Linked DNA regions of Homo sapiens: region 2 is linked to region 1. The links come from fine-mapping of genetic effects on gene expression. A gene starts in region 1. The other region holds a variant in brackets. All regions are shown on one strand. Distances are between the middles of the regions.

Region 1 (5,366 bases):
TTCTTAATTTCTACTCTATCCTTTCTCTACTCATTGACAGAGCCAAAACTGAGATGTGGAACTCATGGAATTTGACATATTGACAACTCATTTCTTCATTAAGTATTTACTAGCTTGTGTCTTCTGTTGATTCCTGTATTATTGCTACTTAATGTTTTACATATTGGCGCTTTGTCTTCTTCAACAAATGAATGCTTCTTGAGGACAGGAGCCATAACCTGAGCCTCTTTGCTTCTGCTCTTTATTCTTAGTGCTAGCACACAGCAGAGCTTCTGGTGGGTGCAGGGAAAATATTTGCCTTCAGTGATTATAAAAACGATGGTTATATTTTGGATAATCATTTTTTAAGCTCTTGCAAATGACAAAAATAGTCAAAGCAAGATATATTTACTTAAAACTACGATGTGCAGTTTAAAGCACCAAAAAGGTATTAGTGAAAATCATAGTATTTGAAGACTCCAAAAATTAATAGCTCATGGCAATGGATCTCCCATATCAGGAAAGTGTTGGGCATTGATCTAGATTTCAGAAAACGAGGGGTGTGACAGGTGTAAATCAGTGATCCAAGGCTGTTGCCTGCGGTCCTATTTATGGCTCACTGACACCTCTCTGATGGGGTGAATTCAGCCTGATTTTCCCCTCTGACTCTGCAGGCTGCAGCAACTCACTGGGAGCCATGGGAAAGAGAGAAACTCCTCCCTCCAGGGGTCCTGGGCAGAGACAAATGGATCTCCCCTCCCCCTCCCTTATCTGAAGAGGGCTTCCCTCTGAGAGTTTATGGCAGCCTGACCTCCAGCCTCTGGGTTGGAGAATCTGGCCGCTTCTGTACCACATAAAAAGGGCAAGTGCATTCATTATTATTATATTATTATACAATGTATAATATATAATAGCGATTATGCTGTCAGCAGCCAGAGACTCTGACTGCAGATCAGAGGCTAGGGTGACATAAATCCACCTAGTGAAGTTTTTGAAGGTTCTATGTGAAGGTGAGAGGATTCTAATCTGTCTATAATGGGGGCTACCACTGAAGAGTTTCTCCCACAAGCAACGTTGGTGGGTGGATTTGAGGGTATTGGGAGGATCTGGACAAACAGTAGTGTGTGTATCTGGGATGTGATATAAGAAGGGTCTCAATTGCCTCCCCTGAGCCAGGCAATGCTAACAGCTCTCATCCTTGCCCATGACGGAGGCGGGTGAGTGGCGACCCAGAGGCCTGAGAAGAGCTCAGGGGCAGCCTTCAACTTCTTGGGTCAGATTCTTTACTGAAAACCCAGAGGCTGGGTTTCACTTTCTGCTTTCCCGCTTTTGTCGGTGTCTTTGTCTGGGCTTCTTCCAGGCCCCCTGCCTGGCCTGGGGTCAGAGGATCAATGGCTGCCTGACTGGCTGAAAGGGCTCCTCTATGGGGAGCAAGAAGCAAACTTCCAGAGGCAGAAGGGGTTCTCTTGTCCCTTTATGCGGAGGGCCATGTGCTAAGTTGAGGAAGCAAGCAAGTGTGCTCCTGTGTGTGGCTCTTAGTAGGACTGTGATCTCTGCTGAGTGAATGGAGGCGCTTGTGGGTCTACACATGCCTGCTTTTGTCTTCCACTGTAGAGGGCATGTAAGGAGCCCATTTCCTCCCTGATGTAGATGAAGCCACCCCAGCAGGCCCAGGCTGAAACAGCCCAGCTGGTCTTTCCCTTTATATGACTGCACCCCAGCCCCCAGAACTCTGGGAACTCACTGAGTTTCTTGAGGACTTTTTATTAGAATGAAAATAGCAGTGGCTTAGAACAGGCTTGCCTGACATTTGCAAAGAAGTGCTTTACTGACAAAGCCTATCCACTCTTTCCTCTCTCCCTCTGCCCCACCTTGAACCAGACACCCCGGGAAGCCCACAGCAGAAAAAGCTCTTGAGACCAGGAATAACTAACCAGAGTGTCATCTGAACACCTTTTCTGGGGCCAGGGTAATGAGAATTATTCAAATGCAATCATAAAAATGAGGCCAGCCAGGCAGGAAAAGGGGGAGGGGGAGTGCTGGTGGAAGGAAGGATTTCTTGCCCGTTTTAAGTTTCATCATTTCTGGGGAGTTCTCTTGGGGTCCACAGAAAATCTCACCTCATCTCGGTCCCCTCAGCACCGGTGATATCTTGGAACTCGGCCCCGGTTGTTCGCTAAGGAGGACTTGGCTTGGGGGCGGGAGGGTGCTCCAGAGTTCCTGGGGGTCCACCGCACTCCCCATCCGAGGCTCCTCGCGAGCGGAGCCGCTTCTCCAGGCCGCCCGCCTCCCTGCCGCAGGAGCAGGCCCGCGCCCGCCGCCCGAGAGCCTCCGGTAGAGGGAGACACTCCAGCGGCTCCTCCGACTTGGCAGCGGCCGGGCCGGGAGTGGGTGGGGGTGATGGGGGGTGGGGAGAAAAGGGGGAGTGGGGAGAGGGGAGGTGTGTGAAGGGGGGGTCCGGGGGGCGGGTCCCTGTGCCGCTGACGTCCCGAGCAGTGCTGGGAAGTATAGGCTGTGTTGTCACGCCGGTGTCAGTCTGATGAAGATTGGCATCAGGTAAGCTGTCATTCATTTCCATGTCAGAGACGCTTTTGCAGGCGGCGGCGGCGGCGCGGCGGCGGCTGCTGCTGCGGGCGGCTGCCTCAGAGCGCGTGTGTTTTATTCCAGTCCCCAAGCCAGAGTATTATTCATTGCGACAGGGCAAGGAGGAGAGAGGGAGAGAGGGAGGCAGCAGGGAGGAGAGAGAGGGAGGCAGCAGGGAGGAGGGAGGCAGGGAGCAGCGAGGGACGGCGGGAGCGTGCAGAGAGAAGCTGGGGAAGCGCCGGGAGAGCGCGGAGCGGAGCAGCGCGAGGGGCGGCGAGGCCGGGCACGGAGGCTGCGAGAGCCCCGCGGGCCGCCCGCTCCCCTGCCCGGCCAGCGCTCAGCCCCGCCGCCGCCGCCGCCGCCGCCTCGCCGCGCTTGGGCCCGTGGCCGGCCGCGCATTGTCCTCGGGTGCAAGGAGCCGGGCTGCGGACTCGAATCGCCGCGGGCCCAACCCCGTAGCGGGCGGGCGGGGAGCTGTGCGCCAGGAGCGCCAGGGGACCCGAGAATAGGAACAGGCACGCCGGCCCGAGCCCGGGTGCAGAAGGCTCCCGGCCGGGCGCTCCGCGGGGAGAGGCTGGGAACCGCGGGCAGGCTCCAGGTTCTCTTTCTCCCGGCTTCGGGCGTCCTTGGGGCCGGCGCTTACTCCGCGCCACCAGCCTGGAGATGCTTTCCAGCGGCTGGAGGCGGGAGCGGTCCCAGGCTGGGGCCAGGTGACCGGAGGAGTCGAGGAGCCGCGGCCGCGGCCTGGGGAGGCAGGGCGAATGAGGGTTTGCAGACGGATCAGTGGAGACAGGGGAACACCGGCGGGGCCCGGGAAGCCAGGATCCGAGGGGCTACACGCACGGACCCTCACCCAGGGAGGAGCGAGAATGTGTAGGGTCACCGGCTTTCCATGATTGCTGGGGATCTTTGGTGAGGCGGGCGTAGGGGCCCGCGCGAGGCTTGGGAATCGGGAGCCCTTCTGGCTCGAGAACTAGGGGATGAGTTCGTAAAAGAGGGAACTGAAAGCGATCGAGAGCGGAGAGCTGAGGGGGATGGCGCAGGATCCCGAATCTGCCGCTCAAAGTTTGCATTTCTTTCGGGTTAGGAGACGGGCTTTCCTGGCTCCCGATCCCCAGGAAGAAACGAGCGAAATGGGCCGTCCTTTCCCGGGGCTCTTCACGGGGGAGCCGGGGGTTTCCGCGCGGTGGGGAGACTCGGGTTGGGAATTGAGGGGTAGGGGCTTGTGGATCGGCCTGAATTAGGGCTGGGTTTTAGGACCAGTCTAGAGTTCGGTTTATAGGATCCAGACTGTTTACGGAATCGGGATCGAGGGGCCGATAAGTAGTTTACACGCCGGCCAGAGCAGAGGGCTGGAGGTCGGAGTTGGGGGCTGGAGGAACGGGTGGCGTTTTTAGGATTCAGTAACAGGATCACAGCTTTTTCTTGTGGTGGAAGCTATTGGAATTTGGGGAGGGTAGCACGAGGGGTCCTGCAGCTCCGCGTGTGAAAAAGCGTTTAGGTAGGCGATGAAAGTAGTTGATCTGAGCCATGGCAGGCGAGCCCCGAATTTTTGCTGCTTCCCCCTGAAAGTGTTTCTTTAGGAGGAGAGGACTTGGGCCACACAGGACCCGGTCCTAAGAGAGCGATTCCGGGAAGCGGACAGATCGAAGAGACCTTCTGGGCGAAGCGGCAGGGCAGCCTCGCGGGGCTGGGAGTGGATCTGAGGTCCCGACCCAGGCGGCTCGGAGTGCTCCAGGAGCCACCTGGGTCTGCGGGCGCAGCGCGGCGGGGCGGGAGCGGTGGCCCGCAGGGGCCGCGGCCTGCGATGAAGGCCGGGGGGCAGCGCTAGCAGCGAGGTGCCACAGTGGGCCGAGGAGTCTGGGCTGTGGCCCAGGGTAGGACCGGCTCAAACTCCAGTGCCCTGATTGGAGCCGCTTCCTGTGCTTACCCGCGCCGGACTGAGAAGCCCACAAACCCGGCCTTTGGTGCGCCCGGGGGAGGAGGAAGCTTGGAGTGCCCTACTGTCATCTCTCCTGTCCGGAGACTTCAGGATATTAGCTTTTCGGGTTTCAAATGCTCTATAACCGGTGGCAGCCAAAAGCTTCGCATTTTAGGCAGTTTAGACGATCCTCCCCGCCCCAAATCTGAGAATGATGGTGTTCAAACATAACACGGTGTATTACCCAAAGCCCCTGCCCTTGCCCTCCTGCTCTCTCTGCCGTTCTGGCCTTCGGAGGCCCCAGGACCTTGGTGGAAGCGGGGAGGGAGGGTCCCGTTTCTGGTCTCATAATCTCCCACTCGGGCTGCATCCCCATAGCTTGGGCCTAGCTGTGGGGTGTGGGGTGGGAAGGGGTCCCGACCAGGGAGGTAGGTTATTCTCTGGGCATCTAGAGAAAGAGTGTGTGTGGGGGGTGGGAGCGGGGGGGAGGAGGGCATTGAGGGGAGGAAGATTTGAGATTTCCTCCTCTTAATATTAAACCCACCATCCCAGCCCCCTGCACCCCTGGCAGGGAGAGCCAGACAGCCCTTACAGGACACGGAAGACGCACGACCCACGACCCACGAGTGGCCTCGGCGGCCCGGGGCGCGGCGACTGCCGCCGCGGAGCTCCAAGGCTGTTGTTTTGTAGGCTTGGAATTCGTGAGAGCTCTCTCCCGCTGAGAGCCCGAGGGGGGAGGGAGCCGTGACCCCACGGAGACTCCCTGGTCACCGCCTCCCCTTTGTGAGCGGGAAAGGCTTGAAAGCCAAGAGAAAGAGAGGCTGCTCAGAATAAGGGGCAGGGGGTTACCGGAGGGAGATGGGCCCGACCACCGCTCACAGTA
Region 2 (5,366 bases), 75 kb after region 1:
ATAAATTAAACTGTCCCTTAATTCACAGAATGTTTGAGTCGAAAGGGCCCTCGGAGGCCAGGCAAGGATTCCTTCCTGGGCAGGCCATGCTGGTGTTAATAGGTCCTGCAGCTAGCAGAAACTTCGACCTCAGGGTCGATCTCAACAAGAGTGAGTTGAGTCTGTAACCCACAGCTTCAAGTGTCAGGTCTGGAGGAGTCCTAGACTGTGAGCCAGGACTCCACAAGCCTTGAGCCCTTCACTTACATCCAGGGCTCCCTGGACCTCCATCCCCATGGACTTCTAAGCTGGGGTAGGTTTCACACAAAGATTAGGATTTAAGAAGCTACAAGGGTCTGTGCTGTAGCTGGGGAATTCTGGGCAGCCCTTCCTCCCTGACCTCACGTCCCCTGCTCTCCTTCCTTCCCCTCTGCCACATACTATGTCCTGAGGAGGCTGTGCCCTCCAAGAACTATAGTCTCTTTCCTTTGCCATTTTTCTGACCCGGATGCAGCTAAATCCTGGAAGAGGATCTGAATGTCCTAGGTGCCTTGTTGTGACTTAAGGGGATAGAAAAAAAGCCCAAGCAACCAAAGAGTAGAAACAACCAGCCCGTATCCCCAAAGGGCTGAGAGCTGAGAATGGCTAACACCAAAGGGGAGGGGGCAGGGGCGAGAGGGGTGAGTGGACTTGGTCTTGATAAAAAGTGCTAGAGTTTGGAGGAAGAGTCTTGGATTCTTCCACTTATTGGGCACTTACTACATGCTAGGCATCATGCTAAGCACTTAGGGTGCATTTTCTCACTGAACCCTCACACTATGTTATGGGATGATGTTATTATCTCTATTACAGAAGAGGAGAGGAGGCTTAGAGAGCAAGAGGAATACCCTAGGAAGTAACAGAATTGAAATTCAACTAAGGACTCTCTATTCTTGAGACTTACACTATTTTCTTGTATGACACTCAGTTGACTCCTCTGTAAATGGAAATGTCTGATGGCATCATCCCCAATGCTACTGTCATTTCTAAGATTCTAAATGTGCAGATAAGATTTTGGGAACTTGCTTAGTTATATCTAAATGGGCCTACTTCATGGAGTTGAGTCTAGGTGAAAGTATGGAATGATTTCCTATTCTGTCCCCTTTTGTGAAACTTAGGTCAGGAAACTAACATTTAATTTGGGCACATGAAGGAAACAGATGGACACAAACATAAAGGTCATTTAGATTTTCAAGGCTCCAGCTTGGGAGAAGAATGTTGGATTTGAAGTACAAAGATCAGATTTGAAGCCCAGCCTTGGCACCCCTGTGATCCTGGGCACATCTCTTTGGCCTTTGGCTTCCTCATCTCTGGAATAGAAATGGGGTTGTATATACTTCCCAGGACTGCTATGAGGACTCACTGCGATCCAGCATGTGCAGGTACCTAGAGCCATTCTTGGCACACAATAGGTACTCACTAAGGCTCCAGCCATTCACTCGCCCAGTAAATAAATAAAAAGTGGAGTTGGAAAGAAAGGCTATTCCTTTCCATTGCTTCTGACAGAGACGGTCAAGAATCTTGCCTTTAACTGTACTCTCCATAAAAGTTCACTCATAAACTATTGATATTTTAATAATACACATTAGTGTCTTGCCCTTTGACAAATGAATATTGAATGAGCAATAAAGAGGCAAAACACTAGCCAGGTATACTGCTGCAGAGGAGCTAGGATCCTGGCTGGCTGTCCAAGGGAATGCCCGCTTTCCAGAGACCTTGTAACTCACCCTTCACCCCAGTGACCCCTAAGGAAACAGCTCTCAAAAACAGCTCAGAATCCAGCCAGCCCAGCCTGGCCTGAGTAGGGTTTGTCCTCATTTTTTATTTCAGTTGGCTGGAGGGGACTTGCAAGGAGAGAGAAAAGGTCATTAAAGAACCACTAAAAGGGTGGATGTTTTACCCCATGTGAAACACTTTGGATCTTCCCATTACCTTTGTGAAAGGTGGAGGTTTCTTCTTCACATGCTCTTTCCTCCGTAGATTGCATCTACAGACAGTCAGAGTGCCCGCAAGAAATCAGGCAATGAGCGTAAAAACAACAGACTCGATCCACCCCGCTCGACCAGATCTTGATGGGAACCTATGCTCGAAGGGTGTGTGCTAAGGTTTATAAGGCAGAATTTCCTGCCTCTTCCGGCTTTGCAGCCAGCTCCGTGGCCCCAGCCTCCAGGTTCTCATGGCCTCCATCTAGGCTGGTAGTCCTTGAGTGTGCAGAGAGCAGTGACAGGGGCATTTAGTTGGTCCAGCTTAATTGGTGTGATTTAATGGCATTTCTGGAGGATTCGGATTCAGGCTTTCCGAGCTGCAAATCTGCTTTCTAAATGTAGAATTTTTGTGGAGTGGTAAAAAATAATGGCTGTTCTGTGATTCCTGCCTCCTGAGCTAGGAGATTGCAATTTACATTATGCAAATAGACGTTATGCAATCAAGGCACTTTAGCAGGAATCTGGCGGCAGAGAGGCCGATTGATGAGATGCCGAGGTCTGCAGCCCCAACTGGAGGCGCCCCGGAAGAGTGAGATGGAGTGGGGAGGGGGTGGACCGGGCAGGGGAGGAGGCAAAGAGTCTGTTTCCCTGGCCCAAGGAGGCCGAGTGGAGCCGGCCCAGAGATGAACGCATCTGGGAGCTGCCAAGG[C/T]GACTCTCTCAATTAATGGCTTTGTTTAATCATACCCCCTGTCCAGAAGAGTATTGTCTTACGGATAATTTCGTTTGCCTAACGAGATTTTGCTAATTAAATCTCCTTTCAGTTGGTGTGACTATGCCTGCAGGAGAGGTGGCTATTTGGAGTCTTCTCCATAAACCTTTCTGGAGAGGAGCTGGGAAGGAGGGATGGGAGGGAGGAGAGAGAAGAGGTGGAAAGGGAGAGAGACCCTTTCCCGCTGCAAGCAGGGCAAGAGGCTTTGAGCAGAGTTTGGAAGCTGCAAGGTGGCTGCCACCACCCAAATCGCCTTTCTTCATCCACTGAAATGCAGTTCTAAATCCTTGTCCAGCCTGAAAGGATTTCCCTCTTTTTTCTTTCTCTGTGGTGCCTGTCACTTCCACCATTACCCATTCTCAGATCCTTCTCAAATCCTCAGAGGGAGAACCGGGAGGCTTATAAGAAGGTTCTGAAGGGTTTCCAAGTGCTGCTCCCAGTATCCTTGGCTGTGGGGGGACTAGTGATGGTGTAGGGTCCCCTCCTCTTGCCTTTGCAGTTAGCCAGCCAAGCTGGCTCTTCAGAGAGGAAAAATTGCTCCAAAGCTAGCCATTTCTCCAGGGATAGTTGCATGGATCAAAGAGGAAAATACCTCATTAGACCCATTTATCATCAGAGCTAGCCAAGGAGAGCCTCCCGTATCTGGAGGAGCCTAGCGCTGTGCTTGCGATAGCTGGAGCCTAATTAATGCTGCTGTGATATGCGGCCATGCCATCCCCATGCTGGACCACCTCCAGTGGTTCTTTGCTATCCACAGGTTGAAGTTCAGCTTTCTTGGCCTGGCTGACCATGGGCTTCACGGTTCAACCCTGGTCTACTTTCCTAACTTCATCTCTCACCCTGCAGCTGCTCCCCATCCCTGTAAATACAGACACTCAGATACACAGGCACACTCCTATAGCTGAAACCCCAACTATGCCGGATTGCTCAATCTCCCCCAACAAATACTCTGTGTACTTTTATGCCTCGGTGCCTTTGCACATGCTGCTTATCTGGACTATCCTCAGCCTGGGCGGCCCTTGCTCATTTATCTCCTCTGTGACTTCCTCCTTACAGGCCTTCCCAGCCTCCCCCATCCCTATGCTGCTGCGTTCCTTTGCCTGTAGACCATCACAAGACTCAAACACAATTATTAGTCTATCTATCCATGTAAACCATTGAACCCCATTCTTCTTTCAATCCCAATACCTTGAATCGTTCCTGGTCATAACAGGCACCCTACAAGACTGATTAAGAGAAAGGAGGGGACTGGCGCGGTGGCTCACGCCTGTAATCCCAGCACTTTGGGAGGGCAAGGTGGGCAGATCACGAGGTCAGGAGTTCGAGACCAGACTGACCAACATGGTGAAACCCTGTCTCTACTAAAAATACGAAAATTAGCCAGGCGTAGTGGCGCATGCCTGTAATCCTAGTTACTCAGGAGGCTGAGGCAGGAGAATTGCTTGAACCCAGGAGGTGGAGGTTGCAGTGAGCTGAGATCATGCCACTGCACTCCAGCCTGGGTGACAGAGCAAGACTTCATCAAAAAACAACAACAAAACAAATGAACAAAAAAAGAGAGAGAGAGAGAAAGGATGAAGGATGAATGTATGATTCAAGGTGAAGAGGGTGGAGTGATGGAGAGGTACTCTCCAGTTAAGCCCCCAAGCTCCAGGATGGATGGTGAAGGTGGAGGGGGATGGCGGCGGGGAGCAGGAGACTGATTTCTGCTGACACCATGCACCATGCAGAGGGAGCTGCCTATCCATTCATCACCTTCATTTCACAAGATGAGTAGGGGCACTTCATCTGTGGTTCCCCGTCTATGTGGGGGCCCTGTGCTTGGTGTGTCGCTGTCTCATTTCGCACATGCTCACATGTGAGGTGGGTACTATTTTTGCAGAGGGAACTGAGGCTGGCCTGTTGTCATCGGAGGGCAAGGCAGTGTTGGTCTGTAACGGGGCCCACTGGGGAACCCCAGGAGCATCTCCCTGTAGGGAGGTAAAAGCTCCTATACTTCCCAGTCTCCCCTCTTCATACCCCCACCTGCCCATCCACCCATCCATCCTTACTGGAAGCTAAGCCGCTCTGGGAGTTTGCCCTACTCTCTCTCCCCACGATGCCAGGGTTCATACATGTTCTAGGATGCCTGCATGTACCTGCCTGTGTGTGTCTGCATGTGCTGGGGGCCTGAGTGGTGCACAGGCCCTGAAGGGTGGCCTCTGGTTACTGGTTCTGGACTGCTGCCCAGCTGGTGGGGGGACATCAGGGGTGGAGGAGTCTGCATTCCATGCTGGGGATAGAGCAGCCCAGGGGAAATGGCTCAGGTCTTCCTGTGCAATGCGGGGCAGGGATGGGGGGAGGGCGGGTTGTGTGTGAGTGTGCGAGCGAGGCAGTCTTTCAGGAGAGTGGCGGGTGTGTCCTTCTTGGCTCCTGAGTTTTAGTGCCCTGCTTGTTGTTCTTTGTCGGGGCACGTCTGTCCATGGCCTATCTCTTCATCTAGGCTTGCAATCATCCTCACGTCCCCATCATGCTCTGCTGAGCCTGCAGTGTTTCTAGGTACACAGTAGGTGCTCAACAAATGCTCAGCGAATGCAATGGATAAGTGAAGGATTGAACAAGTGTGCATTTTGGTGTCAGACAGACTTGGGTTCTGTTATTTACTTAGCTGGGAA

What was found. PIP is the estimated chance that this variant, and not a neighbour inherited with it, causes the effect. A credible set is the group of variants that fine-mapping cannot tell apart.
Region 2: its variant is the best candidate, but not a certain one, in a credible set for the expression of PKNOX2 in putamen (GTEx, PIP 0.79).

What each region holds. Positions count from the first base shown.
Region 1 is chr11:125,162,242-125,167,607 of GRCh38, forward strand. PKNOX2 (PBX/knotted 1 homeobox 2) reads left to right here and starts at 2,510. Exons shown (of 13, transcript NM_001382323.2): 1 at 2,510-2,535. PKNOX2-DT (PKNOX2 divergent transcript) reads right to left here and starts at 2,368. Exons shown (of 3, transcript NR_125759.1): 1 at 2,100-2,368. RefSeq lists a silencer at 2,223-2,372.
Region 2 is chr11:125,237,618-125,242,983 of GRCh38, forward strand. The region is part of intron 2 of PKNOX2 (PBX/knotted 1 homeobox 2); the gene reads left to right. Among named protein-coding and RNA genes, the nearest start is that of PKNOX2-AS1, 26 kb to the right of the region's middle. The variant C/T (reference allele first, on the strand shown) is at 2,653.